Linked DNA regions of Homo sapiens: regions 1 and 2 are each linked to region 3. The links come from fine-mapping of genetic effects on gene expression. A gene starts in region 3. Each other region holds a variant in brackets. All regions are shown on one strand. Distances are between the middles of the regions. Region 1 overlaps B3GLCT (beta 3-glucosyltransferase). Region 2 overlaps B3GLCT (beta 3-glucosyltransferase). Region 3 holds the start of B3GLCT (beta 3-glucosyltransferase).

Region 1 (10,794 bases), 130 kb after region 3:
ATTAAAACTGTTAGTGTATAAGGGAAATAATTTATCAAGGTTAGTGTGACAGGTCTTAGATTTTTGTAGCAGCCCTTTTCATTTAGGGAAGAATAAATTAGCTAATAAAATGATAAGGAGAAAAGAAGGAAAATCATCTATAGGCAAAAGTCCTTTGAAGATAATTTTTTTAAAAATAAGGTTGTTGTTTCCCCCACTTTAGAACCCTTGATTTCTCTAATTCACATACATTTTAAACTTTTCCAAAATCATAAAATATGTTTAAAACCTATCCTCCCCAACAGATAATGCTGTATCTTCCAATTCTTAAGCCTCTTTTAGAGAGTTTGGTAACGATTTGGATAGTGCTTTCCATTTATAGTGTTTAAACACTGATCCAAACTGTGTTTGTTCATCTTCACAAAGAAATATGAGGCAAAGAGATAAAATTTAAGAATCCTGATGAGCTAGAGACAGAGTGGGCATTTGGAAGCAGTCTCATATGCAAAATTGCCTGGGCCGTCACATTTCTTCTGTTTTTAGAGAAAGTTATTGTGAATTCGCAGATTTAGAAGGGGACTCCAGGGAAAATCTAGTATTTCCCTTTGTTGAAAGCACAGCACCTAGAGCATATGGTTTTCTGTTCTTCCAAAATTATGTGCCACTAATGGACATGGCAGTGTGCAATGATTGGTGGTTGCTCAACTCTGGAAATTTCCCGAAAAGTTTTAGACCACCGTTATGGTGGGTAAACTGTATGGGATGGAAATCATTTTTCAATACAGTTATAGAAAGGCACTTGTCTAAGGAAATGTGATTTTAATCTCCATTTGCTGCCCTGTTTAGTGTGCTCCAGTATTTACAGATGAAAGGTTCTAATTTTGCCCAATGTAGGAGGTCTTTCCCTTTTTTTTTTTTTTTTTTTTTTTTTTGAGATGAAGTCTTGCTCTGTCACCCAGGCTGGAATGCAGTGGCATGATCTCGGCTCACTGCAACCTCTGCTTCCTGGGTTCAAGCGATTCTCCTGCCTCAGCCTCCCAAGTAGCTGGGACTATAGGTGTGTGCCACCCGCCTGGCTAATTTTTTGTATTTTTAGTAGAGACGGGATTTCATGTGTTAGCCAGGGTGGTCTCGATCTCCTGACCTTGTGATCCACCTGCCTCGGCCTCCCAAAGTGCTGGGATTACAGGCCTGAGCCACCACACCTGGCTGTAGGTCTTTCTTAGGCAGTTTCAGCCCCTCTCTCTTCCTGTATGCAGATGCCTACCACACTCTGTGTCTGTTCCTCAAGTTCTTCACCACCCCTCATCCTGCCTGTTTGGGATTTCCTCTTGACATTTTGGGCACAGAGATATGATTATTAGAGGCTGCATAGAGTTCTTGGTATTAAAGATACCATTTTGGATGTATTTCACTTTTCTGGTTTTGTCTAATGCTTTTCCATTACCTCATTTGTCAAAAATGACCAGTAAATTGTAATGTTTAATAAGCCAGCTCTTTTAATGCATGTATAGCCTCCCTGAGATGCAGCAAATCACTTCTAGAATCTGCATTAATAGAGTGGAAAATGTTATGGTTTATTTTTTTTCCTGTTAGATGCATTTCTATCTTCAACAGTTCATTTTTAAAGGTGAAAAACCAGCAAGGATTTGTTTCCATTGCTTTTACAGTAGTCCTTCCTTAACCACAGGGGATACATTCCACAATCCCCCCAGTGGATGTTTGAAACCTTGGCTATACTGAACCCTACGTATACTATGTTTTTTCTTATATTTTACATACCTATGATCAAGTTTACTTTAGAAAGTAGGCAGAGTAAGAGATTAACAACAATAACTAATAATAAAATAGAGCAATTATAACCATATGCCAGCATCACTACTCTTGCTTCAGGCTATTCTTAAGTAAAATAAGGGTTCCTTGAACACAAGCACTGTGATACTGCTGCAGTTGACTGGATAATGAGGCGGCTTCTAGCGACTCAGGGGCAGGGAGTGTAGACAGCATGAAGATGCTGAACAAAGGGAGGATTCATGCCCAGTGCGGGATGGAGTGGGACACCCCAGATTTCATCCTGATACTCAGCAGGGCCCGCAACTTAAAACTTAGGAATTGTGTATTTCTGGAATTTTCCATTTAATATTTTCAGACTAAAATTGACTGTGGGACACTGACACTTCAGAAAGTGAAACCATGGATAAGGGGGAACTACTGTATTTCTTTCTTCTGGGATCATTGTGGAATTATCTTCTAACGGAATTGAGAGGATGTTTCTCCTTGGTTTTCTTCCTTGCCAGTAAACTCTCAGAGGGCCTTGCAAAGAAACGTCGTATAATAAATGAATTCCTTCAACTAATATTCAAAACTTTCCCAACTCTGTTAGACTGTATTCCAGTGTGTATTTTTTGTCTGTCTCACTGTTTTTTCCTTTTAAAATTCCTTTTAGATTTTTAACTCCCTGAGCAGTTATAATTTCTTAAAAATAGCAATTGTGAAAGTTCTCCCCTTAGATTATTTTGAACTTTTCTTCGCAGATATTATTGTTGGAACACTCATCTGAGCAGTATATTTGTACTGGTGAAGCTAGGTTAGGCCAGGTGCTGCTGAGTGTGCCCAACCGGCGGTAAGATGGCTTGAGCAGAGGCAGCCGGTGTCCTGGCAGAGCACTGGCCCTGGGCTGAGCACCTCTCTCTGGTCTCTATTCCAGTGTTTGCTAGTCATGTTACTTCTGGGAGCTCTGGTTTTCTCAGCGGTAAATTGGAAGTGAACCATAATATTCTGTCCATTTTATAAGGCTGTTTCTAGGATTCAATAAGGCAAAATTTAACAAAGGTATTCTGTAAACCATTTAAGTGAGTTTAAGTATTCATATCAAAGATTTAGGCAGACTGTAATAAAAAAAGTAGCCTACAAAAGACTTGTTTTTAAAATGCATCACATCTAGTTTTAGTAGTCAAGACAATTTTAGTATTGATGACCTAATGAGTTACTTTATAAAACAGTGGCCCATATAAATTAATAAACAAATTTAAGATGATTACTGGCTGGGCAAAGTGGCTCACGCCTGCAACCTCAGCACTTTGGGAGGCCAAGGTAGGTGGATCACCTGAGGTCAGGGGTTCGAGACCAGGCTGGCTAACATGGTGAAACCCCCGTCTCCACTAAATACAAAAATTAGCCAGGCATGGTAGTGCATGCCTGTAATCCCAGCTACTTGGGAGGCTGAGGCCGGAGAATCGCTTGAACCCGGGAGGCAGAGGTTGCAGTAAGCTGAGATTGCCCCACTGCACTCCAGCCTGGGCAGCAGAGTGAAACTCCATCTCAAAAAAAAAAAAAAAAAAAAAAAAAGGTTTACCGAGAGAAACTGGATACTTTGCTTAGAGAAAACAAAATAGTATCTGATTTCAGTTTCCTTCTAACCCTATATGCTACTTCTTCAATCTTATTCTAACCTGTATCTAGTTCTGCTTAAGTTTTATTTTCTAACTTCTAAAAAATTTTGCAATGTAGATAATATAAAAACTTTTTAGGTCCTTTCACAAACTATTTCGGGTTACTTGCAATTCTCATTTACACCTCTGGAACTAGACTAGATATTTGGTCAGGAAGAGAGCATGAGTTACATTATCCTCCTCCCGAGTGAGCTCCTTGTTTTCTTTCTTCGAATGACATCACCTAATTACACATTAGAGCAGTAGAGAGGCCAAGGGAAATCTGAGAAATCCTTGTCCCAGCCCCCCACAACAAACTTACGGCCAGTTTCCTTAGAAGTACCTGGAACATAACAGTTTTTCTGTCTTTGTGCAGAAGTGATAATAGTAACTTAAATGGCTTATCAAAGAAAGCTTTTTGTATTTATTACTATTGTTTAGGAATCTCCCAGAGGCAAGACTATGGAACATAGAAGCAAAAAGCAGTGCATTTGGGGTATTAAGGTAATTGGAGACACAAAAGCAAAGCACCTGGAGTTAGAAGAAAGATATCAGAAAATAGTTTCCTTTTTGCTTTTAGATTCCTATAGCCAATGTTAGGTAGTGAAGTAAAGCAGTCCACTTTATAAATTCAAATGCTCTTCTGCAGCAAAATTATATTCAATCAACAAGGAAGCCTAACTCTCTATTTTTCCTGCAGGCTCGGCCGGTGGATTACCCTAAGGACTACCTTTCTCATCAAGTTCCCATATCGTTCCACAAACACTGGAACATCGATCCAGTGAAGGTGTATTTCACATGGTTGGCACCCAGTGACGAAGACAAAGCCAGGCAGGAGACACAGAAAGGTTTTCGAGAGGAGTTATAAATCAGGGTGACCTGTGCGCCTAGCCTGCGCAGGGA[A/G]TGAACTGGAGACTGTGGCCTCATCCCACTGTGCTGTGCTCACAACACTTGTGTCTGCCACATGGCATTGGGTGCTTCCTGACTTTAGGGGGAGATTTTATGTATGGTATTTTTTGACAGAGGAAGAAAAGGGGTCACAGGAGAAACATTTTTTTTTCTGGGAAAAATCACTTGCTTTTGACTTATGCAGTTGTTTTAACACTTAGTGATGACTGTGTATTCTCCAAGCTGTGATACAGCAGTTTTTTTTTATTGTCACAGGGAAATAAATGGTACCAGAAGTCCCTTTCCTGTTCTGTCTCTTCATTGTAATGGAAGTTTCAGTTGGGCATGAGCCTGGAGAGATGTGACTGTCTACAGTTCTATTTGTATATATAAAAAGAAGACTGAAAGTCTTTTGACATGGATATTGTGAATGGTATGAACTTTTAAACCATATTATTGATGATGAAAATTATTTCCTGGGAACTCAGTAGGAATAATACCGTATTAAGGAATAATACTGTACATAAAACATCATGAAACCCTAGATATGAAATCCCCTGAAGTCTGTAATCATGGTGGTTATGTTTTGTCTATTCTTTTGCTGTTTGTGCCTCATAAAAAGAGAATGAGGTCTTCTGCTAGAGCTTCGTATTGCTTTGGAAGTTCATCTGTGTTTTATTTCTCCCTGAAGCCCTATCTTTATGGCTTACTTGTAACATGAAAGTAGTAGATGCTGCCAGAAAATAGTGTCCTCAATATTTTAAAACAATGTTGACATGTTTTGTTCAAGTCAGCAAGCTCTATGTGAGTCTCAGGAAGTGAATTAAATTTGGACCTTATGTTTTACTCTTGTTTTTTTTTTTTTTTTAAATGTTACTTAATGACTCTCTCCTGACTCAGGAGAGAAACCCCTTGTGGAAGGACAGCATGGTGATCAGGCAATTTCTCTGGGTTCCCAAAGAATGACATTTGAACACAGTATTTTGAAACAGCTCTAGTTTTCAAATTATATCTTTAATATATAGTAATGTAACATATTCAGTATTAATGTATAAAAAGCACTCTAATTATATAATTCAGTTTTTGTAAAGGTATTTGCATAAAATTTAATATGTCTTAAACTAATTTTGGTAAATTACTTCTTTTTTTTCTTTTTAATAAAAACTGTTACTCATTAACTTTGCTTATAATGCTTTTTATAGCCCAGCACAGAATTTAAAGCCATACCACCAAAAGTACCTGTGTGTGTTAATATGTTTTTCTTGTAGCATAGATTGACTATTTGCAATAGTATTAGTATTTACCATTTTTCCAAATTAGCAACTACCAGACCTCACGTGTTGCAGTGATAACACAATGCATTGGATTCAGTTTTGTGAAAATGGATTCTGTGGCCATCCAAGGGATGTATCAGGGATGATCAGCTGATGAGAGGCTCCAGAAGGATTTCTAGATCGCTTCAAGCCTATACTGATGGCCTTAGCTTTGTTCAGTCATTGTAACTGGGATTGTTGTCATTGCTACCGTGGTAGTCACCTTCATGTCATCTATAATAGTACTCCTGGAGAGCCCTGGCTGCCTACACCAGTGGAAAAGAGTCTCCAGTTCTGCTCTGGCCTACTAACTGTTACCACTGAGAGAACAACATGTTCATTTGACATGATTGAAGCTGGCATCCGTATATGAAGATCCTTGTCAAGCTTTCTTCTGTGGTCTGATTAGTGCCTTCTACTGATACCGGGGCACCTCCTCTGGTACTTTTAAGTGTTTTGTTAATTATATTTACTTTTTGGAATGGTGTAAGCCTAACCACAAGTAAAAGATCTTTGCCTAAGTTTTTGATTTCTCAAATATTGTGTTCATTAGTCTAGACTGGGAATGGGGAGGGGAAATGGGGAAAATGAATGAATGAAATCAGAAAAAAGTCAGCGGCTCAGTAAATACAGTTTAAAGAGAGAATAATTACTTCAGAGCTACCCTTTTAAGAGAAAACCATCAGAAATTGATAATGTTTATATAAAGTTTATAAAGCCATTGTGTTTTGTTATATAACAAATCAGAGATGTTATTTTAGAATCGATTCCCATCTAAAGAACTCAATTTTGAGTCTGACATTTCCAGGACCAGATATTGTCTTACTCACATTTCCTTTGCTTTGAAATAGGGCTTTCCTTCCAAATGGCTATTTTTAGGCTAGGGATGTTAACATCAGGGATTTGTGTGTGGAATAACTGGAATGTCATTTTTGCTTTTAAGCCATTTCTGATGATATAGCCAAAGCAGGTTGTCTGACTATGTAGGATTTTTACATCTTGAAACTAAATCAGAAATCCAGACATGAAAATAACCTTTCTAGAATGCCTAGGAGCAGAAAACAATAATAGCATGCTAAATCACAAATGATGCTATGTATGGGTATGTAAATATCAGTGCTGTCTGCATTTCTGGGTTTATTGAAGACCTCTTGTTGTATATATCCTCAAAAATTAATGTAATTGACATCTTCAAGAATGTTTCTATTGTCTTCCATTCATAATCAGAGATGTAATTTGTATGGACTAAATAAAAACTTTATTATGTAATGAAAAGTTGAACACTTTCTTACAAAGAAAACTCTAGGCCCAGATGGTTTCATCGGTGATATTCTCCAGGCATCCAAAGATGAAATACTATGTTTATGGGACATAAACTCTTTCAGAGCATAATGAAAAAGGAAACATTTCCCAGCTGAATTTATGAGACCCAAGTTTCTCTGACACCAAAACTTGACAAAAGAAAATCACAGACTAACAACTTTCATGAGCATAAAAGACAGTGATCCTAAACAAAATGATCAGCAATATGTAAAAAGAGGATACATAAAAAGGATAGTAACTCATGACCAAATGGGTTTATTCCAGGGATGCAAGGCTACTGTAACATTCAAAAATCAAGTAATTCACCACATTAATAGAATAAAGGAGAAAAATTGTATAACCATTTTAATAGCTGCGCAAAAAAGGAGGAAAAAAAGCATTTGACAGAATTCAGCAGCCAACCTTGTAATTCTCAAACTAGGTAAATTCGTCAATATAATAAAGAGTATCTACAGAAAAAAGTATCATAAATACCTAATGCTTTCATATTGAATTATTTCTCCCCCTAAATTTGGAGGAAAGACTAGAATGTTTACCATCACTACTTCTATTCAACATCGTTTAGGAGATCCCAGTCAGGGGAAAGAAAAGAAAATTATATAAAGAGTAAATAGAAGTAAAAAGATATTTACAGATGACTTGATTGCATACAAACAGAATCCAAAGTATTTTATAATGAATTTAGTAAGATCACTAGATACAGGACTGATATAAAAAATAATTGTATTTCTACATACTGGCAACAAACAATTTGAAAATAAAATTAGGGAAACAATGTTATTTACAATGGTTTACAAATATTAAATACTAAGGAAATCGATCTTAAATGTTACCACCACTGCCAAAAAAAAAAAAAAAAAAAAAAAAAAAGCAGGAATGGATGGATATGCTAATTGGCTTGATTGTGGCAATCATTTTACAATGTATACATATATACAATCATGTACACTAAGTATATACACTTTTTATGTGTCAAGTATACCTCAGTAAAGCCGGAAAGCATTAGCAAGCATCTAGAAATATCTAGAAATAAATAGTTGCAAGATCTCTGCACTGAAAACCAGAAAATCTTGAGAGATATTAAAAAGGAACTAAGGTTTATCATTTTATGTACTGAAATGTTCAATATTGTTATGACTACAATTATCTCAAATTGATCTACAGATTTATTTCCAGTAAAAATCTGAGACTTTGTGTGTAAAAATTGACAAATTGGTTCAAAATATAGAAGGAAATGCAAAGGACCGAGAATAGCCAAGCCAATTATGATGACAAAATTCGAAGATTTACAAGAACAGATTTCAAGACCTACCAAAAAACTACTCAAGTGTTTTACTGGCATGACGATTGAAGTTAGGTAAATTGAGCAGAATCCATATATAATATGATTACTTAATGTAAGACAAAGGTGATACATGCAGTTCATGAGGGAAATGATCTTTTCAATAAATGTAGAGAAATTAGATATATGGAACAATATGAAGCAACTACTAACTCGGATTACAGACATTATATTCAAAGATTAAGCTATAAAGCATCTAAGAACAGTACTTTTCAACTGGGGGCCTTTTAGCCCTGGGAGACATTTGGCAAGATTTTTGAATGTCACAACTGGAAGGGGGTGCTACTGGCATCTCATGGGTAGGCCAGAGATGCTGTTAAACACCCTACAATGCACAGGAGAAGAATTAACAAGGAATTATCTAGCCTCAAATTTTAGTATTGTCAAGGTTGAGAAACACTAGTCTAGAGGAAAACCAGACTAAAATATCTTCATGATCTTAGGTAAGCAATGAATTATTAAACAGGTAATAAAAAGCCACTATCTAGGGCTAGTGTGGTGGCTCACGTCTGCAGTCTCAACATTTTGGAAGGCTGAGGCAGGAGAATTTCTTGAGGCTAGGAGTTCGAGACCAGCTTAGGCAATGTAATGAGACCCTGACTCTACAAAACAACAACAACAAAACGCTATCTACAAAATTAAAAAGTGGATACATTTGATTTTATTTTAAATAAAACATTTTTTTTCTATCAAAGGAAAAGGCAAGTTACAGACTGGAGAAGATATGTATGATATATCTGACAAAGACTCTGTGGCAGACAACTCTAAAATAGTCCCCATGACCCCTGACTCCTGGTATTCATACCCTTGTGTAATCCTCTCCCCTTGAGTTTTCATGGGACCTATGTGACTTGATTTTAACTAATTGGATATGGGATGTATGTGATTATGTGTATGTGAATCTGTTCCATAAGCCTGTAATATTCATCTCATGAGGAGATACTCTTCCTTGTTGGCTTTGAGGAAACAAGCAGTCATGTTGGGAAAGCCTACATGGTGAGAAACTAAGGGTAACCTGTAGGCAACAGGCAGCAAGAAGCAGACTGGAAAGCGGTATACCACAAGGGACTGAACACTGCCACCACATGAGTTTGGAAGAAGATCCTTCCTCATTTAAGCAAAAGATGAGACCACAGCCCTGGCCAACATATCTATTGCAGCTGTGTGAGAGATCCTAAAGCAGAGGACCAAGCTAAGCCATGCTGAGACTCTTGACCCACAGAAACTGTCAAATAACAAATGTATGTTTGTTTATACCCCTAAGTTTGCAGTAATATTGCTATGCAGCAGTAGATAATACAGGTTCATAGCCAATACAACTCCTACAAATCCGAGGACACAACGCAGTCAAAAATGTCCAAAACACTTGAACAGGCACCTCACAAGAGAGGAAATACAAATGGCCAATACATGTATTTTGAGTGTTCAACATCATTAATGAGATCACAAACCCACTGTGAGACATGCTATGCGGTTACAACAATGGCAAAACTAAAGAGACTTGATACTTTTGAGTGTTGACAAAAATGTGAAGCATGTATTGAATTCTTATAAAGTATTGCTTAAGAGTACTAAATAGCCACACTGCAAAATTATTCTCAGCATTTTCTACTAAAGCAAACCAAACATCTATGCCAGGGTTCAGCCAACTGCTGCCCATGGGCTAAATCCAGGCCACCACCTGCTTTGGTCAACAAAATTGTATTACACAGGCACGCCCATTTGTTTGCATATTGTCTATGGCAGAGTTGACTCATTACAATGGAGAACGTATGGCTTGCACAGTCTACATATTTCCTATCTGCCTTTTACAGAAAAAGTTTGCTGACCTCGGGTCTACACTATGTCTCAGTAATTCCTCTCCTGAGTGCACAGTTCCACAAAATGAAATGTTCAAAAGAGTTCATATTTGCTTTATTATAACAGCCCCAAATTGAAAAAAAATTTCTACCAAGAAGAGATGGATAAATTATTATATATCCGTACAGTGATGGATAATTACTTCACAGCAATTAAAAGGAGAAAACTATTGGTAGACATTACAATGTTAATGATTCTCACAGGTATATTGAACAAAAGGAGGCAGACACGAAAGAAAGCATAGATTCTTTTTATAGGAAATTCAAGAATAGGTAGAAATAGTTGATAGAAGTTGAAAAAATAGGAATTCCTGGTGGTGGGGTAAAGAAAAAAAGCTGCCTAAGGGGCGTTCACTGTCAACTCTTAGTGGAGCCTTTGCTGGCAGTGGATAGCAAAAAACTACAATTCTCCAAAAGGATTTGGTGTGTTGGCTACTTCATATGGCTAAATATACATTTATGTGTTCTGGATGCTAGAAGAGGCAGGGATAGGATTGCCATTCTATTGTGAAAGTTCAGAAATCTTATTCAGTATTCTTATGTAATTGGGAGACAACACCACCTGTGGAAGAACATGAGGGGTGGCAATTAGAATCAAATAACAGTAGGTGTTTTGGGGTCAGACTGAGCAGTTGCTGTGGCAGCACCTCACAGACTAG
Region 2 (10,794 bases), 48 kb after region 3:
TCTGTCTGATACATGTTGCAAATAGCATATTACAGATCTCTGTTATCCTCATAAGACATACGTACCTCTTACAGAAGAAATTGTAACAATAAACAGATGTTAATTTTCACCATAATTTATTTGTTGTTCTAAAAGCTCAGTTCAGTGCCTCAGAATGATGTAATAGTTGGAATTTAGACAAACAGTTGAAATGGAATCAGTCTTAAAAGTTCAGTTTTTTAGAACCTTTGCCTAATGCTGATCTTACTTTCTAGTTTAGCATGTAGTCTGAATAATAAAACTGAATGAGACCATAAACCCATGTACTTCTAGGTTTAGAGGTTAAATTAAGGACAAATGACAAATACTGGCAAATAGTCTGTTGACAAGGGAAAGACCAGCACCATGTAGTTTAATTGTTGAATTATTTCCAGACATGCAGAAAAACTAAAATGGTTCAAAACCAAATCTGCTGAATAATTAAGGTTATTTATGATATTTTATATATTCATCTATTTTAATCCATGTTCAAATGTTAGCTTTTTCATTCATACTATTAATATTTCTACATATAAATTTTTAATGATTTCCCCTCCATGTCAAGAATAATGACCCTTCTCCATTCTAAAAATATTGTGAGAATACTCAGCTGTGATATTGGAATCAAACCCCTTTCCCAAATGAGGATGATGAATATGTATAAGAACCAACTAATGAATTAGAATGTTGGTTTTAAATTTGTTTGCTCTCAATAATTATTAGCTGCTTTAAATATGAATTCATGCCTTGATAACAAATATGTTCCAAGGAAGTACCGACTGAAAGTTCAGTAGGCTTCCTGTCTTCAAAGTGATTATGATACCAGTGGATGCTGATAAAGGCAGACTTTAATTCAAAGAGATAAATAGAGTTGACATGAAAGTTTAAATTACTGCAAGCGACCTTTTCATTTTCTTTCCCTTTTCTGTCATTTATCCATATTTGATCATTTGTATTTTTAGCTCCTTTATGCCTGCCTGTTACGGCATTATCTCATTATCGAGAGAATTTTGAATTACCTTTTAGGTTTGAAATAGTAGCATGATTAGGCATCATTTAGATTGACGACAGTTGTTGCATGCATGAATGCCTTTACTATGTCTTTATTCCAGACAGCTCTTGGTAATGTTGATATAACATTTTCTTATTTTCCCCTTGAATTTTAATTTGAAAACTATTTCTTAGTTATTCAGCCAGTTACTTATTTAAAAACTTGCTTTGAGACTGGGCACGGTGGCTCATGCCTGTAATCCCAGCACTTTGGGAGGCCGAGGCGGGTGGATCACCTGAAATCAGGAGTTCGAGACCAGCCTGGCCAACATGGTGAAACCCTGTCTCTATTAATAACACAAAAATTAGCCAGGCGTGGTGGTGCACCCCTGTAATCCCAGCTACTCGGGAGGCTGAGGCAAGAGAATCACTTGAACCTGGGAGGCAGAGGTTGCAGTGAGCCGAGATTGCGCCATTGCACTACAGCCTGGGTGACAAGAGCGAAACTCTGTCTCCAAAAATAAAAATAAAAACTTGCTTTGAATCTAAAAATGGTATCATTTAGTGACACTACCTTTAAGGAGATCTAAATCTTATGATGGCGATAGATGGAACATAAATTATTATAATCCTAAGTGGTAGGAACTGAGATAAGATCATTTGATAGAAAATTTTATTGCACCCTTTTTGATAATTACCTTTAAGGTGCTACTACATCTAAGTGTAATATTACATCTGTTTGGGTCTCTGTGTGCATTCATATATATATATGTGTATATATGTGTGTATATGTATATGACAAGAATAAAAGCTCTTGGGCATTTTTGGGGATTAGTAGATTAAAATTTATTTACAATTAAGATGACTTTGGCTTAATCAAGAGTTAATCAAGAGCAGGTTTCTGAGTGCCAAAGTAGCACCTACTTTGTATTTTTGAGTACTCACCTTTGGAGAGTGTTATTAACAAGGCATGCTAGCTTTTGAAATGTTGTTATATGGAGATACAGAGAGACAGAAAATTTGACTGATCTTGTGTTCACAAACTGAAGCAAATATGAAATCTAGTATATGATTTACTAAACAAATATAATGGAGCTATGAATGACTTTAATCTACTGATAATCCATAGAGTTTATTTCAATCTAGGATGTGATTCCTTGTTTGCACTACCTAAACCTTTGCCTCCCACATTTTATGTTGTGGCAGAAATTATTAATAAGCTTGTCTTCTAATCTCTCCCAGGAAAGTGCTTTTGTAGCCTTTCTGCTGAGGTTACCGTCAAGGTATCAAAGGAAGCCTTTTCTCAGTTAATAGCTGTTGATATTACATTATATATATATCCTATAACTAGGAAGTATAATACTTGTTTGGAAGTAAATTTTTGAGGTGCATTCATTTTCCTTCAATGTTTAAAAAACTTAGCTATGTTTTAATTGAAGGATTTTTAAAGCATATATCTCATTGTTCTATCATCTTGACACAAATATTTTCACTTCCTGGTTCTTCTAGTCTCTGTTCATCTAGGATTTTGTTTTATTCTTGGAATCATGTCTGGTTTTTTTCTATTAAACATAAAGACATTTCCGTTGTTATAAAGTTTTCATCATAATTTTAATTGATACATAATAACTCATTAGCTACTTTTATGTAAAACTTTAAAAAGTATTTGCTATATTTCTTTTCTTGTCTAGCTCACATTTGCATTTACCCATAATTATTCCAAAGTTTTATGCAAATAGTAACATCATTAGTTTCTTTACACATGATTTTCTGCTCTTATGTAATCCTTCATGAATATATATATTTGCTGGAATTTTAAAAAGACAATGAAAATTACTGCATAATTCAGAAGTAACAGTAGGAAGGCCCTGAATTATTTATATTGGGTAACTGCTAATTCAGCCTTAAGGTTTGCTCTTTCTAACATACCACATTGTTTGTCTGATTTAACCTGTGATTACTGTTTTTTGCATTTCATATTTCTACATGGAAGTTGAAATGAATATTATATAAAATAAATGAGATTTACTTGAAATTTAATTCCAAAGATTTACATTAAAGACTATTCTCTTCTTAAATAATAAATATCTATGAACTTTAAGACAGCTGTGAAATCCACATCAGTGCAGTAATGTTTCAGATACTTAGGTACTTGTTCTTGAATTCTTTTGTCTGTAATGGTTACTAGGAATATAGTTTTATGGCTAGTATAAAACACAGGATATAATAAAGTTTGTTGGGGGAGGAGGTTTAAGCATATGAGATATGAAATTTTTGACTTTTGGCTTTTGTAACAACTTGAAATATAGGGAATAGTGTTTTGCTTCAAAGCTAACACTCGTAGCCTTAAAAATATTAATCTCTCTTTATATATGTATACATAATTTATGTAAGCACAGTTGTGCCTTATTTCTGAATTTTAGTTCCTCCTATGCTTATAAATTTGTCAATTCCATTATTATGCTATTCCTGTTATTGCCTGAGTAATTAAGGATTACATTTCTCGACCAAAACTTTTTGTTATCAGGGTATTTTAATGTGTTTAGAGAACTTTAAAAAGTAAAGTAATTTTTGCACATGAGGTAGATCAAATATTGTATCCTCTAGTTTAGCCAAAGGGTTTTCATTTTCACATGTTCCATATGTTGTATATAAAATAAAAAACTGCTTCTGTGCCTCTGAGTTATCCCTGACTACTTCCCCCAGGCTCTTCCCTTCAAGTCACCTTCACAGATTTCAGGTTGGCTCGGAGTCACGGAAGACCCTCCTTGTAGGTCTTGAGCTCTATTTGGGTGTGTGGGTGGTGCAGAGTGTAGAGGTTGCATGGATTCAGCCAAAATACTTCATTTCCAGTAGCTCCTGGAGAAAATGAGGAAAAAGAAGTGGTTTGAAGAGTACCATGTCAGGTCTCTAGAAACAGCTGCATTTTAAGCCAAGCCTTTTCTTTTTTTCTTTTTTCTTTTCTTTTCTTTTCTTTTTTTTTTTTTTTACTTTTTTTCGGAGTAGTCAATTCATACTTATCTTCTTTGATCATTGTTTTCTCAGGAGCTCCCCAGTGTCCTCCTCCTTCATCAGCTGGCTAAACAAGAAGGTGCATGGACCATACTTCCGTTGTTACCGCAGTACGTTTGTTTAACTCACCTGTGAATTACTGACATTCCTACCTGAACACTTTTACGCCCTTAGTCTTTTTATTAAGAGGGTGTGGTTTTCCTCAGTCAGTAAGTGAAGTAAATTTGAGTTTTACTTTTTATGATTACTACCTTAACCAAATTTCTTGATGATTGGTTCTTAATCATGAATAGCTTTTTCTTTTTTTTTGGAGACAGAGTCTCGCTCTGTCGCCAGGCTGGAATGCAGTGGTGACTTGGCTCCTGCAAGCTCTGCCTCATGGGTTCAAGCAATTCCCTGCCTCAGCCTCCCGAGTAGCTGTGACTACAGGCGTGCACCACCACTCCCAGTTATTTTTTTATTTTTAGTATAGATGAGATTTTACCATGTTGGCCAGGATGGCCTTGATCTGTTGACCTTGTGATCCGTCTGCCTTGGCCTCCCAAAGTGCTGGGATAACAGGCGTGAGCCACCACACCCTGCCCTATATATGCTTTTTCTTAAAGAATAAAATGCTTCAAGTTGATATTTGAAAATTATTTATCCCCTGAACTAGTGTTGTTATGGAGAGAATTAACTTTACGAACTCCAGCTGTTTTTTAAACCATTAGCATCTGGCTTTTCTATAAGCTGAAGAAAAATATAGAGAAAAAAATTAGATATGCCATTCTGTGTACCCTTCATTCACTTCCTACTGATCAGTTTTAAACCTTATTATTAACTTATTTTACAGAAGTGATTACTGAAACTTGTTTCTTTTGGTCAGTTTTTCTGTAACATATAGCAGAAATTCATCTTGGATTTTCTTCTGTGAAGAAGAGACAAGAATACAGATTCCAAAACTCTTGGAAACCCTCAGAAGATATGACCCCTCTAAGGTGAATATAACTTCAATACCAGTTCTTATTTTGGGGGACAGTGTTTCAAAGGAGATTTAATTTTGATTAAGAAGCTTTTGAATCTAATAAAAAACCACTTAGTTTAAAATTAAAAAGAATGAAACATTGTTGAATATCTGAGATATGTTAAGTAATGCTCTTTGAAGTTTGTAGCTTATAGAGGGACAGAGCTTATAATGAGCCATTTTAAATGAAAAAAATCTGTTAATATATGTGTTAGCAATTTCAGAGAGTTGGAAACTATAACTTGAAGTTCATAAACTGCTTTTCTTAGCAATAAACTTAAGTTGGCTATTTCTGCTTATTAGACAGTGACCATATATTATTTTAGATAGAAAATTTTTTTTGAGTGCCAGCTGTATACTGAGCACTGTGGATGGCGGAGGCTAGAACAAAACAGACAGCGATTCTGAACATGTGGGTGGCACAGAATAGCAGGGAGAACAGACCATTAGAGAAGCAGTTATGGTTAGAAGGAAAACATCTCTAATAAGGAAGACTAGGGTGCTGTTAGAAGCATATAACAGGGGCATGGAATCTAA[C/G]CTGGGAGGGTCAGGACAGGAAGTGACATTTAATCTGAGTTCTGTAGGATGAGTAGGAGTTAGCAAGAGAGAAAGAGGGTCTACCAGGCAGAGGGAACACGATTTGAGAAAGAATGGGGGTGGGAAGGGATGTATCTTGAACTAGAGGAACTCAGTGAAGTCCACTACTGCTTTTACATTTTCAGATCTTGTTTTTATTTCATGCAGATTTGATAGAGCAACTGGATTTTGTTTGCCTTGAAATCCCTAGCCCTTAGCAGAGTGTTTAACACTTAGTAGGTGGTCAGTGAATATTTGCGAATGACTTTATAACCCTGTAATAATCAGTTTTGCTGCTGGGCTATGTTCAAAGGCTCGTTAGGTTTAGAGAGCTGCCTTGGAAATGTGTCAAGAGTAAATCGAGCTCATTCAGTTCTCTTTCAGAGGAAAGAAGCCCAGGTTACAACCTGATCACTTTTTGGAATTCTTTAAACTTGAGATAAGCAGAGATGGGCCCTTTCTGGTCCCAGTGGAAACCTGTCCCACCCACCTTCGAATGCTCGCTCCTGAGATGAATCAGATGTAATGAGCTCATGGGGAATAAAAGGCAAGCTTCTGGGTTCTGCTCGGTTTGTTGATGTAGATGTCAAACACTGGGCAACAGTGATCGTTAGATTAATTTCTCCAACCCTGGAAAGCCTGTTACTATAATAGAAACCACTGCTTTTGATGATCTTTAAATGCTGGAAAGATCCACTATGATTTTTCTTCATGCTTTTAATTTCTGGGAAGCTTTAGATATAATTGGATGAGAAGGTCATTGGGTTAAAAAAATAATTCTTTCAAAGAGAAGAATTATGAACCTGTCTCATCCAGTCTTTTCAGATGACACTAACCAGCATCTGTGCACTTTCTGCCATGTTTTATGCAAACCATTTGTTAGGCTTTTATGTTTCCTTTTGGCTTGGGAAAAACTCCCAAATCTTTTTTAGGATGTAGGAGTTTTCACCTCCTCCTAGTGTTCATTTCACCTGGAGGTTATTTTTCCATTATCCATAGCTCTAATTCTGTACAGGAGATGGTGACTCACTTTGCTTTTTAATGAAAATTGGGATGATAAATTTAAAAGTTCAAAGCAAGTTCATGAAAAGCAAGTACAGAACAGAGGTAAAAGGAGATGTTTTCTCCCTCTTTTCAGAACTCTGCCATGTGTAAAAAAAAACCATCCAGGATGCTTTATTTCTTTTGAGACTAACAGTAAGAAATGATAAAGATTATATGATGTTGAAGTTAGCTCAAACCAGTGTGATTTTTTTGTCCTCTACCATTTGAAGGGAAAAAAGTATAAAGCAAACCTGGCTTTGATATTTACACAAATAAACTTTGAGTACATTAAAATAATTATGTAATGTGTGAGGGTATAAGGTATTTTGTTTGATTCTGATTTATTTCCATCATCATCTTTCAGTCATTCTTACTAATGCAAATGTATACTGTCAAAATATTTTAAATGTAAAACTTTTAACTTTTATTAATCTTTATTAAATTGCCTTCCTCGGTGATTTCTATAAATTTTTGTATGTTGTTTGAAGTCTTTCCTTTGTAACCACAGTATGCTTTTAATATATGTGTATTTTATGAGGTGTGTTGACTTTAAATTTATTTTGTTTTATTTTATTTTTTGAGACAGAGTCTCGTTCTGTCACCCAGGCCGGAGTGCAGTGGTGCAGTCTTGGCTCACTGCAACCTCCACCTCCCAGGTTCAATCAATTCTTGTGCCTCAGCCTCCCAAGTAGCTGGGATTACAGTCTTGCACCAGCAAACCTGAGTAATTTTTGAATTTTTAGTAAAGATGGGATTTTGCCCTGTTGGCCAGTCTGGTCTTCAACTCCTGGTCTCAAGTGATCTGCCTGCCTCGGCCTCCCAAAGTGCTGGGATTACAGGCATGGAGCCACCACACCTGGCCTAAATTTATTTTTAATAGAGATAAAACACAGGTGCTTGCAAAAAGTAATTCTGAGGGGCGTCCGCCATTGCTGAGGCTTGAGTAGGCAATTTTACCCTCACAGTGTAAACAAAGCCACCAGGAAGTTCAAACTGGGTGGAGCCCACCACAGCGAGGCAAGGCCTCTGCCGCCAGACTGCCTGTTTAGATTCCCTCCTCTCTGGGCAGGGCGTCTCTGAAAAAAGGCAGCAGCCCCAGTCAGAGACTTATAGATAAAACCTCCACCTCCCTGGGACAGAGAACCTGGGGGAAGGGGCAGTTGTGGGCGCCACTTCAGCAGACTTAAATGTCCCTACCTGGCAGCTCTGAAGAGAGCAGCGGATCTCTCAGCACAGTGTTTGAGCTCTGATAAGGGACAGCCTCCCTCCTGAAGTGGGTCCCTGAACCCCCGTGTAGCCTGACTGGGAGACACCTCCCAGTAGGGGCCGACAGACACCTCATACAGGAGAGCTCTGACTGGCATCTGGCAGGTGCTCCTCTGGGATGAAGCTTCCAGAGGAAGGAACAGGCAGCAATCTTTGTGGTTCTGCACCCTCCACCGGGGATACCCAGGCAAACAGGATCTGGAACGGATCTCCAGCAAACTCCAGCAGACCTGTAGCAGGGGACCAGACTGTTAGAAGGAAAACTAATAAACAGAAAGGAATAGTATCAACATCAACAAAAAGGACGTCCACTCAGAGACCCCCTCCGAAGGTCACCGACTTCAAAGACCAAACGTAGATAAATCCATGAAGATTGGGGAGAAACTAGCACAAAACGGCTGAAAATCCCAAAAACCAGAACACCTCTTCTCCTTCAAAGGATCACAACTCCTCACCAGCAAGGGAACAAAACTGGATGGAGAATGAGTTTGACGAATTGACAGAAGTAGGCTTCCGAAGGTGGGTAATAACAAACTCCTTCAAGCTAAAGGAGCATGTTCTAACCCAGTGCAAGGAAGCTAAGAACCTTGAAAAAAGGTTATAGGAATTGCTAACTAGAATAACCAGTTTAGAGAAGAACGTAAATGACCTGATGGAGCTGAAAAACACAGCACAAGCACTTTGTGAAGCATACCCAAGTACCAATAGCCGAATCGATCAAGTGGAAGAAAGGATATCAGAGATTGAAGATCAACTCAATGAAATAAAGCAAGAAGACAAGATTAGAGAAAGAAGAGTGAAAAGAAATGAACAAAGCCTCCAAGAAATATGGGACTGTGTGAAAAGACCAAATCTACATTTGATTGCTGTACCTGAAAGTGATGGCGAGAATGGAACCAAGTTGGAAAACACTCTTCAGGATATTATCCGGGAGAACTTCCCCAACGTAGCAAAGCAGGTCAACATTCAAACTCAGAAATATGGAGAACACTACAAAGATACTCCTCGAGAAGAGCAACCCCAAGACACATAGTCGTCAGATTCACCAAGGTTGAAATGAAGGAAAAAAATGTTAAGGGCAGCCAGAGGGAAAGTCCGGTTACCCACAAAAGGAAGCCCATCAGACTAACAGCGGATCTCTCAGCAGAAACCCTACAAGCCAGAAGAGAGTGTGTGCCAATATGCAGCATTCTTAAAGAAAGGAATTTTCAACCCAGAATTTTCATATCCAGCCAAACTAAGCTTCATAAGGGAAGGAGAAATAAAATCCTTTACAGACAAAGAAATGCTGAGAGATTTTGTCACCACCAGGCCTGCCCTGCAAGAGCTCCTGAAGGAAGCAGTAAGCATGGAAAGGAACAACCAGTACCAGCCACTGCCAAAACATACCAAATTGTAAAGACCATTGATGCTATGAAGAAACTGCATCAACTAAGGGGCAAAATAACCAGCTAGCATCAAAATGGCAGGATCAGATTTACACATAACAATATTAACCTTAAATGTAAATGGGCTAAATGCTCCAGTTAAAAGACACAGACTGGCAAATTGGATAAAGAGTTAAGACCCATCAGTGTGCTGTGTTTGGGAGACCCATCTCATGTGCAAAGACACACATAGGCTCAAAAAGGGATGGAGGAAGATTTACCAAGCAAATGGAAGGCCAAAAAAAAAGCGGGGGTTGCAATCCTAGTCTCTGATAAAACAGACTTTAAACCAAGAAAGATCAAAAGAGACAAAGAAGGGCATTGCATAATGGTAAAGGGATCAACACAACAAGAAGAGCTAACTGTCCTAAATATATGCACTCAATACAGGAGCACCCAGATTCATAAAGCAAGCTCTTAGAGACCTACACAGAGACTTAGACTCCCACACAATAATGGAGACTTTAACACCCCACTGTCAGTATTAGACAGATCAACAAGACAGAAAATTAACAAGGATATCCAGGACCTGAACTCAGCTCTGGACCAAGCAGACCTAACAGACATCTACAGAACTCGCCACCCCAAATCAACAGAATATACATTCTTCTCAGCAACACATCACTCTTATTCTAAAATTGACCACATAATTGGAAGTAAAACACTCCTCAGCAAATGCAAAAGAACGGAAATCATAACAAACAGTCTCTCAGACCACAGTGCAATCAAATTAGAACTCAGGACTAAGAAACTCACTCAAAACCGCACAACTATGTGGAAACTGAACAACCTGCTCCTGAATGACTACTGGGTAAATAACGAAACGAAAGCAGAAATAAAGATGTCCTTTGAAACCAATGAGAACAAACGCACAACATACCAGACTCTCTGGGACACATTTAAAGAAGTGTGTAGAGGGAAATCTATAGCACTAAATGCCCACAAGAGAAGGCAGGAAAGATCGAAAATCGACACTCTAACATCACAATTAAAAGAATAGAGAAGACCGGGTGCGGTGGCTCATGCCTGTAATCCTAGCACTTTGGGAGGCCAAGGTGGGTGGATCACGAGGTCGGGAGATTGAGACCATCCTGGCTAGCATGATGAAACCCCGTCTCTACTAAAAGTGCAAAAAAAATTAGCTGGGCGTGGTGGCGGGTGCCTGTAGTCCCAGCTACTCGGGAGGCTGAGGCAGGAGAATGGCGTGAACCCGGCAGGTGGAGCTTGCAGCAGTTGTCTGAGATTGTGCCACTGCACTCCAGCCTGGGTGACAGAGTGAGACTCCATCTCAAAAAAAAAAAAAAAAAAAAAAAAAACTAGAGAAGCAAGAGCAAGCAAATTCAAAAGCTAACAGAAGGCAAGAAATAACTAAGATCAGAGCAGAACTGAAGGAGATAGAGATACAAAAAAACCCTTCAAAAAAAATCAATGAATCCAGGAGCTGGTTTTTTGAAAAGA
Region 3 (10,794 bases):
ATTTTTCTGATAGGGGTTGCCGAGTTAGGACACCAGGTAGGCCTTACGAGCTACAGTCTTGTAGTGGAGGTTTTGGTCATCACCTGCTGAAACATCCTTCCATCTATCCACTGCTCATTGCCCCACTCAAGGGAAGGCCATTCTCCTAGCACGGTGCCCAAGCCCCTGCTCGGTACGGTCCTAACCAGCCTCCCCTCCATGTTCCCTCGTGCTGGCCAAACTAAACAGCTCCTCAGTCTCTGAACTCTCGGTCTTCCATGGCATTTCTTGCTTGTCTCCTCTGCTTGGAATGCCTTCTCCCCTTCTCTCTTGGCAACCGCGCCATCTCGGTGAGGCCCCATGCAGCCCCACTGATGAATGTGCTTTCCTTCTCCTTGCCCTTGTTCGTACGCTTCTTAGGGGATTTCCATGTTCCAGGAGGGTTTATGGCTATTTCTGTATGTCCTGGTCCTCCTAACTAGACTGTGATCTCCCCCAGGAAAATGCATTTTCCTCCAAACTCAGCATGCCATATGAGGGCCTCATACATGCAGTTAGTCCGTGATACATTCGTCACAAACACATAAAATTTTTGTTGAGCTTATTAAGCAAGATCCTACATCTGAAAGCAGCTGTTGTAAAATGAACAACTACTTATTAGCAACAGCACCAAAAACACCAACACATTTTGTGTGGGCTGCTGAACAGTCATGCCCCACGCCTTCTGTTCTTAGTGAAAGTCAAATGCAGACACTTCCTGTCATGCCTGCTATGAGTGATTCCTGATCTTTACTGGGAACAGAAGGATATGTGATTCTACAAAGGAGAGCGAAACAGCCAAGTAGATCATCTATTTCTGATTAGAAGTTTCTAGGATAGCTTTCTTGTAGACAGGCTTTATATCACTCTGTGTCTTCAAATGTCAATGGCTTCAGATTTCTGGGCTTTCCTGGGGGGTCTGCTGAGATGGTAACCTGTTATATTTCCTGGATTTTGGTTCAGGGTTGTTAGGCTGTGAGAATCCCTTTGTTAAGCTTCTTTGAATAAAAATCTTGGTTGAAAGTTTGGTTTGACAGAATGGGTTTTGCCTAAATATATATATATATATATATATTTTTTTTTTTCCAGACAGAATCTCACTCTGTCGCCCAGGCTGGAGTGCAGTGGCGTGATCTCGGCTCACTGAAACCTCTACCTCCCCAGTTCAAACGATTCTCCTGCCTCCCCCTCCTGATTAGCTGGGATTACAGGCGTGCGCCACCATGCCCAGCTAATTTTTATATTTTTAGTACAGATGGGCTTTCACTACATTGGCCAGGCTGATCTTGAATGCCTGACCTCAAATGATCCACCCGCCTCAGCCTCCCAAAATGCTGGGATTACAGGTGTGAGCCACTGCACCTGGCCTTGCCTATAATTTTTGAATAGCTTTGGAAGCAATGTGAGACAAGCTCCCTGAGGGCATTAAAGAAACCACCGTATGTCATCAAAGGATTCTTCCTGAGTACATGCAGTGGGGCTGTGGCTCTGGGTCCTCTCTGAGTGATGAAAGTTTTGCTCCCTCTCTTCTCTTCCTGTCTCCCTCTTCTCCACGGGGATCATAGATTATCTTCCTTCCCAAAACGCTAAAGCGTAAGGTACAAGTGATGAGTCTTTCTCCTGTAACCCCCTAGTGTGCACTGATTGTGGGGTGTGAGGATGGTGAGCAGATGATTAAAGTACTGTAGCATAGGTCTGATATTATAATGACCTTAAGTCCCGGAGACCCTGTTTTAGACATTCTATTTTACTATTAAACCTTAAGACCTGATTTTAGGTTTGGAAAATAATCCTCAAGACCACTCATAATTCATAAACCTGCTGTTTTATGCAGGAAGAGAATAGTCCTCCTGAATTGTGTTGACTGCTAATCCACTTTAGGCCTGACACTGAGTGAAAGGGCACCGAGAGTGGGAAGAGTTGGAATATGCCCTTTGGGCTTTGCTAGTATAGAAACAGGGTGCCTGGGAGGCCCCTTCCAAGTCACAGGAGAGAGGCAGCAGGCTGGAGGGGGCACAGTGAGAAGCTGTTCCTCCTTGCAGCCCCTCTCCCCACCCGCCACACTACTGTTGATTTGCACATTCGTGCTGTGCCTCAGCCTGGGGCGCCTGTCCTCCTTTCTCAGCTCAGGAACCTGCTATTTCTCCTTTAAGATCCTGTGCAACAGTCGCTTCTTTTCTTACAGATTCCAAAGGCCCTGAGAGATTTTTTTTTCCCTGTGTGTTCCAAAGTGTGCTGATCTACGCATGCCATAGCATTTATAAGAAGGTAGCAAAGTTAGTTATGAACATTTTTGTCTCCCAAACTGGACCGTGAGTTCTTGGGCCCAGGACCATGTTTTATGCTCTTTAATATCTGCCCCAGAGCTTAGCAAAGGGCACATCAGCTAGAGGTGCTCCCTATCATTTGAATGAATGGAGTTCAGCCTTTTGGGCCTCAAGGATAACTGTTGTAAGATCAGAAACCATCTGTTTGGAACTTGTTCATTAGATTATTTGGCTCTCAGTGGTTTTAGTATGTCTTTATGTTCTCCTTTAGTATTTAGAAAATTATCTGTAAAATTACCAGTCTGTTTTAACCAGGTTGCGACAGTGCCTTCCCCAACAAAAGATGGCTCCTTGCTTCTTCCCCTGTCCCTCAACAAAGAAAGTTTCAGGGGCCAGCATGGAGGTGACAGCTGGGATTGAGTAAATCCCAAGAAGATGGCTTGCTTGTTTTCATATCACAATCTTAAAGTTTATAGGATTTATTTTTTTTCTACTTAGAGTTGTTCCTTTACAGTCAATGTTATAGGCAAGCAGTGCCTATCATGTATCTGTTAGTATCCTCATCAGTACGTTGCTCTAGGAAACTCTCCTGACATGTGATTGGGAGAGAGAACTCCCAGCAAGTCCATTTATCATATGACTAGAGTAAGTGAAAGGCAATTCTTTTTAAAATGTGAGTTATGGAGCTTTGTAATGTGCCATTTATCTATGTCTACTGTGGAAAGGAAGGACACCAGGGCAAGTTTATTACTTAAACGGTGTGTTCTCTGTTGTCCTTAGGGCTTAATTTTCCACACCTTGTTCTGGAACATAGTAATACTCTAACATGATGAATTTCCATGAAAACATTGATTAAGCACCAGGAGTTGCTTACCCACGTGGAGTAGGCATTTGACCCTGCTTATTAGTCTTCTGTGTCTAATTAAACAGTTTGGTTAAATGTTTACTACCCCACATATGCAAGGAATATTTTCTTGGAAAAAAGCGAAAACAGCTTTGGAAATTGGAAACAATCTAGAACTACTAGGCAGGTAAGCTTGAGAATTTCCCAAGGATAAAAGCAATGAATTCAGTCAACCATAGATTTGAAATGCTTCACTAAGAAATGAAATGGAAGGATCCCTACATTTCTTTTTCCTCCCATCAAAATGGTATTGACAAGAGACCATAAACCTTGGGCGAATGGAACAAAAGGGAACTATTTGCACTCACACTAAATGGATCACACGTGAAATATTTAGTTCCCAGTTTTAAGAAGTCAATATAAACCACACAGAGAGAAAATTCTTTGTCTCCAGGCCTCCTTTTCAAAACAATCCCAGCAGGTATTGCACAATTGCAGACAATACTGTCCTAATGCATTAGAGCCTAAGTCCCCTAAACGCATTCAAGTTAAGAGGGCTCAAGCCTACAAATGTTTATTCAGCACCTGCTTCTCTGTCTCCAGGACATCCTACTTGTATTCCCAGGGCCATCCTACTTGTACTCCCAGGGCCTCCTCCTCCTTAAATGTTTAGCAAGTAGGTGAATGTTGTATGTCCATGTGAAAGATACTGGCATTCCTAGGGTGCTTAGCAGAGTTGCAGTCACATAGTAGGTATCCAACAAATGAGTAAATATGAAGGAAAACATAGAAACTGCCTTCAAGAGGTCATGGGCTAAACTAGGGCTGGGAAAAGCACTTGGTCCTGTGCACTTCCTTGGAAACAGAAGTGAGCCAAGGCTTGAGGGAGGCACGAAGGAGTTCAGAACCACTGAAGGGAGCCTCTAGTTCTTACTTGTAATGCTTTCCCCTTCAGTGCACCACACAACACAACAGGACCAGTCCCCTATCAGGGCCACCACTCTACCGGGCTGGGGAGGAAAGCCCTTCGCAGTCCTGCGGGAACAGGAGGCACTCCCACATTGCTCCACTTCTCTGTATTCCAGTTTAATTAATTTTTATATTTTGAATAAAATTACACCCACTCTCTTCCATTATGGTGAACACTTAAAATTACATTTATAGAAAATTACATTTACACAAACTTGTTTAAAAGCCAAATCCCAGACCTAGGCTATTGGCCAAATTCCATTTAAAGGGGATATTAAGTAAATTAGTTGAGCTGATTAAAAACACCTTCATCAAAGTAGAGCATTGGTGCCAACAATATTAAGAGTTGAACTATTGATTACATTTTTTTTTCCACAGCAGATAATACATTAGCAGGGAGGAAAAGTGATTACTGCTCGCTTCCACTTCACAGGTAGAACTACTGATGGGGGTGACGCGGTAAGGTGGGAGGGCATGAAGGCAGGGGACGCGGCCTAGGTCAGGAGGGACGCAGAGGAGAAAGGAAGAGGAGGGGTGGAGGCTGGTGGCTGGAGGGGGCAGAGGTCAGACGCCTCGAAGGAGGGCGCCGTGAGGGCAGAGCCGCGGCCACCTCTACCGCAGCAGCCCGTCGGGCCGGACACCAGCCGCAGCCGCCAGCCCGGCAGACGCTGGAAGCGCGCACAGGGGTGCTCCCGCTCCCGGCCGCCAGAGGGCGCGGCCGGCGATGGCGCGGCGGAGACGGAGGGAGGAGGGGAGCCGGCAGAGAAGGGTCAGCCGCGGCGGCAGGGCGGCGGCGGCAGCGGCGCAGCTCCGCTCCCCGCGCGTCTCCCTTCCCCGCGCCCAGGTAGGGCGCTCAGCCTCCGCCGCCAGGATGCGGCCGCCCGCCTGCTGGTGGCTGCTCGCGCCGCCGGCGCTGCTCGCGCTCCTCACCTGCTCCCTGGGTAAGTAGCGGGCGGCCAGGCGCGCAAGGGCGAGGCGTGGGGTTCGCGGGCACAGTCGCCCGTGCCCCGGTCGGCGCGGGGAGGGAGGCGCAGGGCGGCCCAGCCCTGCCCCGCCGGCGCGCGCGTCCCGCCGTCCGGTCCCCGCCGCGCCGCGCCGTCAGCAGCGCCCTCTCGCGGCGCCCAGGTGGGACCCGGGCCCGGGACCCGAGGCGTGCCCGCTCGGCCCCTTTCGGTCTTGGGTCCCCGCTGCCGCCCCGGCCCCAGACTCGCGTCTCCCAGCCTCTGCCGCCCCGAACCGGCGGGCGACGGGGCGGCGAGGGCGCAGCAGCCGCCCCCACAGGAAGCGCGCAGGAACTGTGCCACCGAAGAAACTTTGCAACAGCGCGAGTGGCGGCGGCGGCGGTCCCGCCCCCCTGCCTTCCGCCCGCGCTCCGCCGTCCTGCGCGCCCCGCGCCGGGCGGGAGGCTGGACGGGAGCCGGCGAGGCGGCCCTCGAGGCCCCGCGGCTCCTGTTCGACCCCCGGGGGCGAGGACTGCGGTCCCGGTGTCCGCGCGCCCCTCCGCAGGGCCTTCGGGACGTGCCCTGGCCCCTGAGGATAAGCGGCCAGCTCGGCGCCAGCCCTTCCCGGATTCCGACCCGGAGGAGGACAGGGGCGCCCGCTGGGCCTCCGCGGGAGCTGGCGCGGCGGGGAGGCTTGCTCCTGTCTCGGGTCTCCGCTGGGGACATCAGGGGACACGTCTGCGAGCAGAGCAGTGCTTGCCCGGTCTCCTGCTGCTGTAATGCCCATTCTTTTTTATTTCTTTTCTCCTCGCAAGGGCATTTCCCCCCTTTATCTTAAAACGATGTGATAAAAGTTAAAAAAAAAAAAAAAGCAGCCTTGTAATTGACTTTCATGATCAGATTTGTTCAACTTTGAAAGCTTGAGCGAAAAATTATTTTTTTTTCAGACTGCTACAGAGTTTTTGTCCTCTAACCCAGACTTGCTGGTGTGAAAAGGCAATGATTTCAGATTTTTTAGTAATGGCAGAATGGTGCAGTTTAGGAAAAGACGTAGCGTTATTGCGCACTGCTCTTGTTAGCCCACCGGAACCTTGACAGCCTGTTTTTATTTGTATTTAAGCTCTCTGAATAAGGATTAATTTGCTGCATTTGTGTACTTCTGGCATTTCTATAGGCGCTCAGTAAGTGTGGGAAAAGAGCAAGATTAGTTGGTAATTGTTTACATGCATGATTAATTAGGCAGCAGTGTAATTAAAAATATTAGGGCACCTCCGGCAGAGAAGGCTGTAGTTGGTCTTGGGGAGCGACTGAATTTGGCTGGAATCGGCTTCAGTGGAAGAAGGGCATTGCTGGGTGGCAGCCCTGGGAGAAAGGGAGGTTGGAGGTTTGGGAAAGCGACTGGGTGACTCCTGGCTGCATCAGTTGGCTTGTTGCCTGGATGTTTTGCAACTAACCAAATGGGTGGGTGGTAGCTGAAATTGGTATTCTATTTATAGCACTGCACTTTATAATGCTGTACTGGGGGTATAATATTTGTATATAATATATACAACATATGGGCTGAAATGCACATTTGTATTGCTGTGTCTATTTTTTATTACCCCCAGGGGAATATTTGCACTGTCCAAATTTGATAATACACTGAAGGACATTCAGAATGCACTAAGATGTCAACACATTTTTAGAGATGTCTATTAGCCTTGTGAAGTTGTCAGATAAGCACAATAAATAAGACATAAAATGCATTAAAAGGTCCCTGTGAGACATTTGGCCTTTGGGAACTGGCTTTCATGGGTTGGCACAGACGGGAGGCTGTATTCTTCGAGGTCTGAAGTGAATCATGAATACCTTTTATGGAGCTCTGCTTCGATTTAGGGGAAGGGCACCGACACGTATAAAGATGTCCCCACTTACGATGTTCTTGGAATCTTGCTGAAACAGAATGTGACAGGCGTTCTGTCACATGTGAACAATCTTGATAGTTTATAAATACCTTAAATATTCCCATATAAGATTGGCCTGACTATATAGTTTAGTTTCCCCACAAACTAGAGCATATTTGTTTATATTTTTAGAGAAAAGTCAATATAGAAAATTTCTTTTAAACCCACATGCATATACAGACACGGTTCACTGCAACTTTGGTTCTAAAGTCTGGCACCAGTTTCAGAATGAGAAGATTGAGTCAGGCCTCCAGGTTACCATTTGTTAGCTGTGTGGCTTTTAGTGGCTTTGAGCTTCAGTTTTCTCATATGAACAGGGCGAATGGACTGGATAGAATACTAGCACTTTGCCACCTCTTACAGTTTTAACATACTGATCCCGTTGTAGCAGAGATTGACAGCCACCTGCGAAGTAACCCTTTAGCCCTTGTTTTCCTAACAAAACTAATATAATCTGGGTTGGGGGGAAGGATGGTGGGGTGGTGGTGGCAGCGGTGGCAGCAGCACTGTGAGACATTTCTCAGTGGCCTTTGCATATAGGGGCAGCTAGTGCTCTACAGAGATATCTTTAGAGATTGTTTGGTGGGGCTCCTGGTAAAGCTCATTCAAGGTGGCTGACTCAGCTGGGATGCAGGCCTTTTTGCTCTGTGTTATCCTCCTTCCCATTGCCTATTAAGTGGATCTGAGGGATGGAGCCATGGTGGCCATCTTGTGACCATGAGGTGACCTTGAAGATGGAAGCCAGTAGTAAGGATGGTAGAAGAGAAAGATAGAAGAAGCCTGGATGCCAGATGGATGTGGAGCATCATGTCAGCTCTGCATTTCCTGTTTGCAGACTTGTATTGCATGAGATTATATGCAGCCAAACCTAATCCTATTGCCAAACCTAATCCTAATTGATAGAAGAAGCTTATTCGAACCAATGATATTGATAAAATAATAGGTATTAGCTTTTATTTTTCACATGCCTGTCTGTCACTTCCCTGTGTGAGCCAACTTTGTATTTCTTAGCACCTGCCAAAATTGGGGATGGTTTTTCATTCTGAGCCAGGTCTTGCCCAGATTCCTTTCATTGCAATGAGTCAGAAATTTTAGGACACCAAGAGTCAGACCTAATTCCAGGTTGTTTTGTGTTTTTTGATTCTTAAAACCTTCTCTTTATTTCTTAAGCAGTATGCAGATATTACTGGCACAGATTTTAATCTTCTGGATGGATTCTTTGTCATCCAGGTAGTCCAGGACCTCCGAGTTGGCATGGCTCCCCAGGTCATGGACTTGACCCAGGGGAGTTTGCCAGTAGCCAACAGCTAAGCCAGTGGGAGGGAGGGAGAGCATCTGTTTCAAATAGCAGTGTGAATTCGAAGGAGGTGCTTTGACCCCTTTGGTAACTTCCTGCGGGACAAACATTGTGGGCTCGGTATTTGAGCACTTCCTTATAATTGGCTCTTTTGGAGCCAGGTTTTTTTGGTGTGTTTTACTAGACTCATTATGAAGCAAGCAAGCAAGCATAATTTTTAGGCATAAAGGTACTACTTAGAGAAAATTTGCAAATGTTCTGTTTTTCCTCTTGTAGCATTATGTGTGATCCATCTTTGGCTTTGCACAGATTACTTCTTAAGAACAATATATGGGAGTCCCCATAGGTTAATCTCATCTTTTCCATGATAAAGGAAAAGTTGTGAGTTTCAAGGGTTCATCAGACCTATTGAGGAAGTTCTTCCTTACTACCATGATTTCAAAGTTCTAGTCACTAAGCAACTCCCAAAGAAACCTGATTTAACGTAGGCGTTGACTTGAACTACTAGAAGAATGTCAATTTAAAAATAGTGTTAAAAAGAAAAACTGCCCAAAGCCTCTCATTTATTCAGAGTAATGTGGGTACCTACTGTGTGTCAGGCATCGTGATATTGCAGGAACAAGACAGATCTAGTCTGTCTCTACCCTTGGGGAGCTTGCAGCCCGAAAGGCAAGGTGATGTTAAGCAGTAATGACTACAGAATGAATCGTGTCTGTGCCAAATGCTGTGGAAGAGATGTTCAGGATGCTGTGAGAACATGCTGCAGGGAGATAGATGGCTTTTGCCTAGACTGGGGAGATGGATCTCAACAGGGAGCCATCTTGCACCCCAGGGAACGTTTGTTGCTGTCTGGATACTTTTTGGTTATCCCAGGGGCTGGTTTGGCAGAGGGTGCTACTGACATCTAGAGTCAGGGGTGCTGCTGAACATCCTACAAAGGCACAGGACAGTTCCACCCCACCATCGAACAATTAATTATCGGATCCAAAATGCCAACAGTGGCAAGCTTGAGAAACTGTGGGGTAAGGGTCAAGGAAGGCTTCCTAGAGGATGTGACGTTAGAGCTCAGACCCGAAAGGGAAGCAGAAATCAGGTAAGTGGGTGGCAGAGCTTGGTGGTGAAGGAGCCAAGTGGAGAAAGGACGGAGGACTGAAGGGCTGGCAAGATCATTAGGGGCCAGGTTGGGTAGGGCCTTGCAGATCAGGGGACATATTTTGGGGTCATCCTTAGAGCAGAGGGAAGTGTTTGAAGGGCTGTAGTGGGGCAGTATGTGATATGGCTGCCGTTTCCTGAAACTCACTCTGGCTGTCTGATGGAGCAGGAGTTGGAGGGGGCCATTGTGGATATAGGGAACTGTGAGGAGGCTGCTGGACACAGGTTGTGAGAGATGATTAATAATCTCTCAGACTCTGGGACTGATTAGGTTCAGTGTGCTGGGAGAAAGGGTGGGGGAAAGGATGAGTCATACATTTCTGTCACATCCACCATGGGTAGTAGTGCTGTTTACTAACTTGGGCACTGAAGGAGGAGGACCAGGTTTTTAAAAACAGTTTTATGTGGTTCAATGTACATAACATACAGTTTATTAAGTATAATGAATTTTAAGTGTATAGTTCTATGGCATTAAGTACTTACACAATTTTTTGAAATGTACTTTGACTTTTAATTTTAGGGGGAGGTGAAGCTGAGTAAGTTCAGTTTTGGACAAGTTGAGTTCAAAATGCATGTGAGATGGCCAGGTACCATGTTAGGTGAGCAGTTAGATATTTGGGTCTGTAGAGGACAGGTCTGGCTGGAAGGTATTTTGGGGGGTCATTATATTAGGTGGCAATTTGAGTAGGTTTTTTTTTTTTGTTTTTTTTTTTAAGAGTTGGGTGTCTGGTCGGGCATGGTGGCTCACACCTGTAATTTCAGCACTTTAGGAGGCTGAGGCAGGCAGATCATTTGAGGTCAGGAGTTCAGGACCAGCCTGGCCAACAAGGTGAAACCCCATCTCTACTAAAAATACAAAAAAATTACCCGCGCATGGTGGCGTGTGTTTGTAGTCCCAGCTACTTAGGAGGCTGAGGCAGGACAATCGCTTGAACCCAGGAGGCCGAGGTTGTAGTGAGCAAAGATTGCACCACTGCACTTCAGCCTGGGTGACAGAGTGAGACTCCGTCTAAAAGAAAAAAAAAAGTTGGCGGGTCTGGCTATATTGCCCAGGCTGGACCTGAACTCCTGGCCTCAAGTCATCTGTCTGCCTTAGCCTCCCAAGCAACTGGGACTACAGGAATGTTCCACTGCACTTGGCTGTTTTATGTTTGTTTGTTTTTAAGGAAGAGAGTCTTGCTTAACAGAATAAATTCATTTAAGCATTTACTCAAAATGTGTATATACCAAAGATTTGGTAGAAGTTGGAGAGGAAAGCAGTCTTTATCTACATATATCTGCATGTTGTAAAGCTGAGGGTTTAGACAAAACAAAAATAAAAACAAAAACAAGTATAAGTATCATCAAATAAGAGTTGAATGTA

The links.
Region 1: its variant is fine-mapped to the expression of B3GLCT in lung (TOPMed, PIP above 0.99).
Region 2: its variant is fine-mapped to the expression of B3GLCT in unexposed skin (GTEx, PIP above 0.99).

The regions. Positions count from the first base shown.
Region 1 is chr13:31,325,391-31,336,184 of GRCh38, forward strand. It overlaps B3GLCT (beta 3-glucosyltransferase), which reads left to right. Exons shown (of 15, transcript NM_194318.4): 15 at 4,111-6,886. The coding sequence ends at 4,278. Among named protein-coding and RNA genes, the nearest start is that of B3GLCT, 130 kb to the left of the region's middle. The variant A/G (reference allele first, on the strand shown) is at 4,314.
Region 2 is chr13:31,242,970-31,253,763 of GRCh38, forward strand. B3GLCT (beta 3-glucosyltransferase) reads left to right here. Exons shown (of 15, transcript NM_194318.4): 5 at 4,054-4,130; 6 at 4,886-4,997. Among named protein-coding and RNA genes, the nearest start is that of B3GLCT, 48 kb to the left of the region's middle. The variant C/G (reference allele first, on the strand shown) is at 5,561.
Region 3 is chr13:31,195,116-31,205,909 of GRCh38, forward strand. It overlaps B3GLCT (beta 3-glucosyltransferase), which reads left to right and starts at 4,860. Exons shown (of 15, transcript NM_194318.4): 1 at 4,860-5,039. The coding sequence starts at 4,970. RefSeq lists silencers at 4,501-4,560, 4,611-5,510, 5,571-5,820.